Linked DNA regions of Homo sapiens: regions 2 and 3 are each linked to region 1. Evidence: fine-mapped expression QTL. A gene starts in region 1. Each other region holds a variant in brackets. All regions are shown on one strand. Distances are from middle to middle.

Region 1 (2,763 bases):
CCACCTTCATTTAGTTTAGTTTAGCCATTTTAGAGAGAAAGTGCTGAAACCGACTGTAAACTTGTCTGTCTTTTTTTTTTTTTTTTTTTTTTGAGACGGAGTCTTGCTGTGTTGCCCAGGCTGGAGTGCAGTGGCACGATCTTGGATGACTGCAACCTCTGCTTTCTGGGTTCAAGTGGTTCTCCCACCTCAGCCTCCTGAGTAGCTGGGATTACAGGCATGCGCAACCATGCCTGGTTAATCTTGGTATTGTTAGTAGAGATGGGGTTTCACCGTGCTGGCCAGGCTTGTCTCAAACTCCCGACCTAGTGATCTGCCCGCCTTGGCCTCCCAAAGTGCTGGGATTACAGGTGTGAGCCACTGCGCCAGGCCCTTTTCTTTCTTCCTTTCCTTTTCTTCATTTCCTTTCCTTTCCCTTCCTTCCTTCCTTCCCTCCCTCCCTCCCTCCCTCCCTCCTTTCTTTCTCTTTCTTTCTTTCCTTTCTTTCTTTCTTTTTCTTTCTTTCTTTCTTTCTCTTTCTTTCTTTCTTTCTTTCTTTCTTTCTTTCTTTCTTTCTTTCTTTCTTTCTTTCTTTCTTTTTCTTTTCTTTTCTTTTCTTTTCCCTTCCTTCCTTCCTTCCTTCCTTCTTTCTTCCTTTTTCTTTCCCTTTTTATTGACAGGATCTCACTCTGTTGCCCAGCCTGGAGTGCAGCAATCTCGGCTCATTGCAACCTCCAACCCCTGGGTTCAAGCAATTCTCCTGCCTCAGCCTCCCGAGAAGCTGCCAAGAGGCTAATTTTTTTTTTCTCCTGCCTCAGGCTCCCAAGAGGGCAATTTTTTTTTTCTTCGTATTTTTAGTAGAGACAGGGTTTCACCATCTTGGCCAGGCTGGTCTTGATCTCCTGACCACGTATCCACCCACCTTGGCCTCCCAAAGTGCTGGGATTACAGGCGTGAGCCACTGTGCCCAGCCTTGTCTTTCTTTTTAAAAGAGGGCCTGGCACTTCAGTTAAGTCTTTCTGGATGATCCAGGTCACCGCTCCAAATGGAAGTCACATGCTTGGTTGTGGAGCCAGTGGTATGGGCCCTCAGGGAGTATTTAGAACTCTACACTAAATGGCCCCAGTGGTTCTGCTTTTTGACACTTCCTTTTGTACTTTCTGCCACCCCCCCATTCTGAGATCCCAGTTATCTTCCCAATTCTTATAGCCCTTGGCATGCTTCTAGCAATGTCTTCTCTAAATGGCCTTGAGCTGGGAAATTTGATAACCAAATGTGTCAGAATTGTGCATAAAGCAAGAGTACTGAGTTATTTCTTTTATCATGAGTACAGTACGGAGCCTCCTGACTTTGTATCCCGTCATTTGCCTCATTCTGGGTTCTCCGCTACTCTCCAGGCCGCTGAGGTCCATGGATGCATAAGCCCTAGGAATGAGGAGGGTGCAGTGGACATGAATTGCTCTTCCTAGATCCTTGCTGCTTTTGCTCTAGAGAAAAGGATGGGATACCAGAGCCTGTCCTGGCTGACTCCTCCCTCAAAGGGGCTCGGGGGAGATGGGAGCACAGGGTGGGGCCAGCTGGGTCAGTGGTGCCTGAAGCTTCTGAGGGAGAGGAGAGTGGCTGGGCCCCACTGATAGTGTGCAGGAGGCTGAGGAAGGGACACTTGCCTCCTCCTCACTCTGGGTGACGATGGCCAGTGTAGACTGGAGAGAGCCGGAGGGACTGGTCTCCCCTCAAGGCCCGAAGCAGGACTGGCACCAGCGGTGAGATGGGCACCTGGGGTGGGGGCCAGGGGTCTCAGCCCATAAACACCCCACACGCCACAGCAGCACACAGGGGCTCCTTTAAATACACAGCTATGGGGACTCCCAAAATGCAGACGTACACTTGCACTCACAAGGGACGCACTTCCATAGCTGTAACAACCCATCAGGGAACTGACCACACACACTCCGGCGGGAGGTCCTCTTCACTTCCTTCCCTCCACGAAGATCTCTCCCCTTCACCACGGACACAGTGACATGTGCTATCCAATTGTGACAAACACATCATCTCTGAATTTGGACACTGGGGTCCCATTTCAGAAGGTGACAACCCTCACACCAACAACTGCACCTACTTTCTTACAGGGTTGGATGCCTATAACATGCCTGCATGGTGGGACAGCAAGCGGCTGATTGCCCGCACACACTCAGATGCACGCTTGCACACATGCTCACACATGCTTACATGCACACTCACACTTGCCTTCAGACACACATGGGTCCAGGCAGGGCCCTGGCTTGGCCTGACCTGCTTCCCCTGTGCTTTCTGCAGCTGCAGGGGGTGCTCTGCCCTCCTCTGCGGGGTTTCCACCCCCTCTGTCCTTGGGCCTTGGATTCTGGGGGGCTGGTGGACTGATGCCAACATCCTCCTCTCTCTCCCCAGGATTTTTGTCAACCGCAGCCTGGCGCTGGGGAAGATTCGTTGCTTTGGCTTCGACATGGACTACACTCTGGCTGGTAGAGAGGGCTGGAACACAGCGTATTGGGAGCTGGAGGGAGCAGGGGTGGGCAGCTGGGCACCAAAGCCCTGATTCTGTCCGGGCCTCTGCAGCCTACAAGTCCCCAGCTTATGAGGCCCTGACCTTCGAGCTGCTGCTGGAGCGCCTGGTGTGCATTGGGTACCCGCATGAGATCCTGCGCTACACCTACGACCCCACCTTCCCCACCAGGTGTGTGGCTCAGGACAGGTGGGAGGCCACCCGGCCTTGGTACCCCCACCCACAGTGCCCCCCGACCCCCC
Region 2 (2,763 bases), 20 kb before region 1:
CTACTTTTTAATGGGGTTATTTTTGTTGTTGTTGTTACTCCCTTCTTTTTTTTTTTCATGCAGAATGTAGATACTATTTGTTCTGCAAACTTTTCCCCCACAGTTGTTGGTAAATCTTGGAGGTCTTTCCTTACTAGTAGATAGAAAGCTTCCTCATTCTTCTTTTTTTTTTAATTGAGGTATGATTGACATGCCAAAAAGCTGTACATATTCAGTTTGTACATCTTGATGAGTTGAAAATAAATATATACCCATGAAACTGTCACCATAAAAAAGCCATAAACATAACCATCAAATCTAAAAGTTTTCTCTCTTCCTCTTTTTTTGTGGGTGTGATAATGACATTTAATATGAGCTCTGTCCTCTTAACACCATTTTAAGTATACAATACAGTATTGTTAATTATATGTGCCATGCTGTACAGCAGATCTCTAGGACTTGTTCATCTTGAATAGCTGAAGCTTTGTACTTTTTGACCAGCATTTCCCTGTTTCCCTCTCCCCCCAGTCCCTGGTAACCTCACTTTTCAAAGTCGTATGTGTATAAAGTATTGCATTACTGTGGGGCCTTAACTTTATTTAACCAGCCTTCTATTGATGGATATATGCTACTTATTTTACTGTTATAAGCAGTGTTACCATGAGCAGCCTTATATATGTGGACATTTTGGATTTGTACAAATCAATCTGAAGTGTAAAAGTGGAATGGGTCAAAGAAAGGATTGATCTTTTTTTTTTTTTTTTTTTTTTGTAGAGTCAGTATCTTGCTGTGTTGCCCAGGCTGGAGTGCGGTGGCACCATCGTGGCTCACTATGGCCTCAAACTCCTGGGCCCAAGCAATCCTCCCACCTCAGCTTCTCAAGTAGTTAGGACTACATCACAGCCAACTAATTTTAAACATTTTTGGCAGAGATGGGGTATTGCTCTGTTGCCTGGGCTGGTCTCAAACTCTTGAGCTCAAAAGATCCTCCCGCCTCTGCCTCCCAGAGTGCTGGAATTATAGGCATGAGCCACCACACCTGGCTGATTTATCTTAATTTTGATAGATGCTGTCAGATTGCCTTCCAGAAGTGGTTGCATCCATTTACATTCCCACGAATAATGTTTGAAAGTTCCTCTTTCTCCACAGACTCACCAACAGAGAATATTATCAACTAGTTGGATTTTTGCCAATGTGATAGGTGAAAATTATCTGTAGTGTTAATTTGCAGTTATTTTATGAGAGATTTTGATGATCTTATACATTTAAGAGCCAGTTGTTTTCCTTTTCTTTGAATTGTTTGTTCATTTTTCTCTTATT[T/G]GGTTATTGATGTTTTTCTCAAAGCTCTTTATGTATTAGGGAGATTCACTCTTGTCTGTGTTACGAGTTGTAAGTTCCTCTTCCCACAGTGTCACATGCTTTTGGTTTTGCTTATGGTGTATTTCATCACTGCCTTCTGAATTATGATTGCTTAAATTTTTTTTTTTAATTTTGAAATAATTTATGACCCAAAGAGTTACAAAGATAGTACAGAGAGTTCCCTTAAATCCTTCTTTCAGCTTCCCCTACTGTCCTCCAGAATTATGGTACAATGACTTTCAGTCAGAAAGGTAACATTGACTCAGTGGAGTTAATTAATACATAGATTTCAGTTGGGTTTCCCTAGTATTCCACCTAATGTCCTTTTTCTGTCCAGCATCCAATCTAGGATCCTGTTTTGATTTAGTAATGATATCCTCTGAATCTCCCATCTGTCACAGTTTCTCAGTCTTTTCTTGCTTTTCATGACGTGGACAGTTTTTAACAGTAATGGTTGGGCATTTTGTAGAATCTTCCTCAATATAAGTCCATTCAATGTTTTCTCATGGTTATATGAAGGTTATGGATTTGGGGGGAGAATAATGCAGAAGTAATGTGCTTTTCTACCAGTGTACCATGTCAGGATACATGATATTAACTCTGATTGCTTGGCTAAGACAGTGTCCAGCTGGTTACTCCACTGTAAAGTTTCTATTTTCCCCCTTGTAATTAACAAGTATTTTGGGGGAGGTACTTTGAAGCTACTGAAATATCCTGATTTTTCTTAAGCTTCTGATGCAGGGCAAGTGAGCCTCCAAATTGGAGATTAGCCAGAGGGGGTTTTTGGCTTTGCTCAGGAAAGAATTCAAGAGTGAGCCAGTGGTGTGAGACAGCAACTTTTATAGATGCGGTAGTGAAGGGCAGCAGCAGAGGAACTGCTTCTTCTGGAGCACGGCTACCCATAGGCAATGTGCCCAGAGCAGCAGCTCAGGGGCAGTTCTGCGGTTATACTTATACGTACTTTATTTATTATCATTATTATTTTATTTTTTGACAGAGTCTCACTCTGTCGCCCAGGCTGGAGTGCGGTGGAGCGATCTCTGCCTCCCTGGTTCAAGCGATTCTCTTGCCTCAGCCTCCTGAGTAGCTGGGACTACAGGCATGTGCCACCACGCCCGGCTAATTTTTTATGTTTTTAGAAGAGATGGGATTTCACCATGTTGGCCAGGCTGGTCTTGAACTCCTGACCTCAAGTGATCCACCCGCCTCAGCCTCCCAAAGTGCTGGGATTACAGGCATGTGCCACCATGACTGGCCTGTATTTTATATACAAATTAAGTGATGGGTTATTCAGAAATTTCTAGAAAAGGAGTCATAACTTCCAGATGTTGCCATGGCAATGGTAAACTGTCATGGCACTGGTGGGTGAGTCTTATGGAAAGATATTTTTGGTGCCTCTTCTCTGTTTCAGCCAGTCTTCAATCT
Region 3 (2,763 bases), 85 kb after region 1:
GGGTAACAGTTTGACGGTTTCTTAAAAAGTTAGACATATATATTTACCATATGACTCAGCCCTTCCACTTCTAGGTCTTTACCCAAGAGAAATGAAATGCTGTGCTTTTACAAATGTCTATACAGGAATGTACATAGCAACCTTATTTGTCATTGCAAAAAACAGAGACAATTCAACGTTGTCAAGAGTGAATGGATGAGCAAGCTGTGGTCTGTCTATGCAATGGTATCCTACTCAGCAAGACAAAGAGATGGGCTAAGGATACGCACAGCCATAAGCATGAATCTTGACATAATTGGGCTGAAAGAAGCCATACATGAAGGAGTATATACTCTGTCATTTTATTTATGTAAAATTCTAGAAAATGTAAATGAGCCTATGGAGACAGAATGCATCAGTAGTTGTCTGATGTTAGGGGGCAGGGAGTTGGGAGAGAGGGGTTACCAAGGGGCGTGAGGAAATTGGGAGTGATGGATATGTTCATTATTTTGACTGTAGTGATAGTTTCACTGGTGTGTACATTTGTCAAAATTATCAAATTGCATACTTTACATTTGTGTAGTTTTTTCAATGTTAGCCGTACCTCAATAAAGCTGTTAAAAGACTATACTGGCTGGGTGCAGTGTCTCATGCCTGTAATTCCAACACTTTGGGAGGCTGAGGCCAGAGGATCACTTGAGCCCAGGAGTTCGAGACTAGCCTGGGCAATACAGAGAGACCCAGTCTCTACCGAAAAAAAAAAAAAAAAAAAAAAAAAAAAAAAAAAGCCAGGCCTGGTAGCATGCAACTGCTGTCCCAGCCACTTGAGAGGCTGAGGCAGGAGGGTCACTTGAGCCTGGGAGGTGAAGACTGTACTGAACCATGATCACACCAGTGCACTCTAGGCTGGGCGACAGAGTGAGACCCTGTCTTTAAAAAAAAAATAAGAGAGACTCTCTGGACCTCATGGTTGTGCGGATGTAAAGGAATTGTAGTAACAGTAATTCCAATTTCCCTAGTTCCTGTTCTCTTCTGACCAAGAACTTGGAGCTGCCAGCTAGTCTCAGCCTGGTGTATCTCGGAGTCCTCAGAGGCCATCTTACATGAAAATCGGTCTTGCAGCTACAGTCCCCCAGGCACTGTTCCTGTTATTGCTGAGAGCTCATTGCCTGTGAAGCTTCATGATGGCCCAGCACTCGCCCTGCTGCTGCTGACCAGGGGAGAATGCGGGTGTCCACTGTGGAGGCCTCTCTCCTCTGAGGACCCATGTGTGTGTTTTAAGGCCTGTGGCCATTCTGCATTCGGGTAGGAAAGAGGGCATCTCCCTGGTACTCACTGTGTCTTGGGCACTTTTTTACACTCACATCTCACAGTGAAAATAACGCCTCCAAGCCTCTTTCTCTGTGACCTCCCATGGCTGAGCAGAGACAGCTGCTAAAGAAACGTACTGTGCTGTTTTCTCACGCCCCATTCCTCCGCGTGTTCTCCCCGCCCTTGCATACAGATCAGTTCATACTCATACATGACTTCCTGCTGCTTGCCCTGTCAGACCACCTGACATGTCTGGACGAGTCTATCCTAGCATGGGCACGAGGCCTCAGCTGGGCATTCCCTCCCCACCGTGGGGCCAGGTCTTCATGGCAGCTTC[C/T]CCGGCAAGTACCACGTACAAAAGACTTTTCCATTTCCCAGTGCCTCTTCTTGGGCTCCAACTTAGAGGTGGAAGAGCCAGAAGGAGGGGAAAGAGGTGAAGAAAGAGTGAAGGATGGACCTGCTGCCCTTCCCCGGAGCTGTGGGTCGGGCTGAAAATTGAATGGGCTGTGGGGTTGATGTTTTTCTTTTTTTCTCATCCCCCAACCTCAATTCTCATCATGACATTTTCCAAACATACAAGTTAAAAATGAGCATAATGAATATCTGCAAACTCAACTTCCAGAGGTTTTAATTTTTTTTTTTTTTTTTTTTTTGAGATGGAGTTTCACTCTTGTTGCCCAGGCTGGAGTGCAATGGTGTGATCTCGGCTCACTGCAACCTCTGCCTCCCGGGTTCAAGCAATTCTCCTGCCTCAGCCTCCCGAGTAGCTGGGATTACAGGCATGCACAACGCCCAGCTAATTTTGTATTTTTAGTAGAGACGGGGTTTCTCCGTGTTGGTCAGGCTGGTCTCGAACTCCCAACCTCAGGTGATCTGCCTGCCTCAGCCTCCCAAAGTTTTAATTTTCGAATATAAGTTTTGAGTGGACTAACCTGGAATGAGTTTTAATTACTAAAATGAGACTTTTATCTTCTTTTTCAAAAATCCAGTTAAAAAATAATAGTATTATTATTTTGTGTTTTTTAAAAAAGATCCAAGTTCTACATGTAAACAGTCAAATGGTTTTACAAAATTTGTTGCAAAAAATAATCAGATTCTTGCCCTCTTCCCCCATCTCTCGCTTCCTATCTGGTGTTTAGTGCTTGTTTCTTAATGACCGCTTTTACTGTTACTTCTTGAATTTTGAGTTTTACGTATTAACAATTATCTTTAGAAAATGAGGATTTAGGTTCTTTGTCCTGCCCTAGTCTATACCACACACATCCACATTTCCTACCTCTTGATCTTCCTAATGCAATTATATCTTCATTTTCTTAGACTAGTAATGAGTGCTTGTATCATTATGAATATGTGCTATTCAGAAGTGAACCATTAGTAAACTAGGTATTTTTCTTTGTTTTTTTTCCCCCTTATTTGCATAGTTTCCTATGTACTTATCATGAAGGCTGGATATAGTTTATATTGGTGGTCTTC

The links. PIP is the estimated chance that this variant, and not a neighbour inherited with it, causes the effect.
Region 2: its variant is the best candidate, but not a certain one, in a credible set for the expression of NT5DC4 in blood mononuclear cells (TOPMed, PIP 0.71).
Region 3: its variant is the best candidate, but not a certain one, in a credible set for the expression of NT5DC4 in blood mononuclear cells (TOPMed, PIP 0.86).

What each region holds. Positions count from the first base shown.
Region 1 is chr2:112,719,412-112,722,174 of GRCh38, forward strand. NT5DC4 (5'-nucleotidase domain containing 4) reads left to right here and starts at 1,609. Exons shown (of 17, transcript NM_001393655.1): 1 at 1,609-1,742; 2 at 2,407-2,480; 3 at 2,575-2,692. The coding sequence starts at 1,669.
Region 2 is chr2:112,699,039-112,701,801 of GRCh38, forward strand. No RefSeq gene overlaps it. Among named protein-coding and RNA genes, the nearest start is that of NT5DC4, 21 kb to the right of the region's middle. The variant T/G (reference allele first, on the strand shown) is at 1,300.
Region 3 is chr2:112,804,246-112,807,008 of GRCh38, forward strand. No RefSeq gene overlaps it. Among named protein-coding and RNA genes, the nearest start is that of IL1A, 21 kb to the left of the region's middle. RefSeq lists enhancers at 1,063-1,172, 1,255-1,755, 1,403-1,742. The variant C/T (reference allele first, on the strand shown) is at 1,628.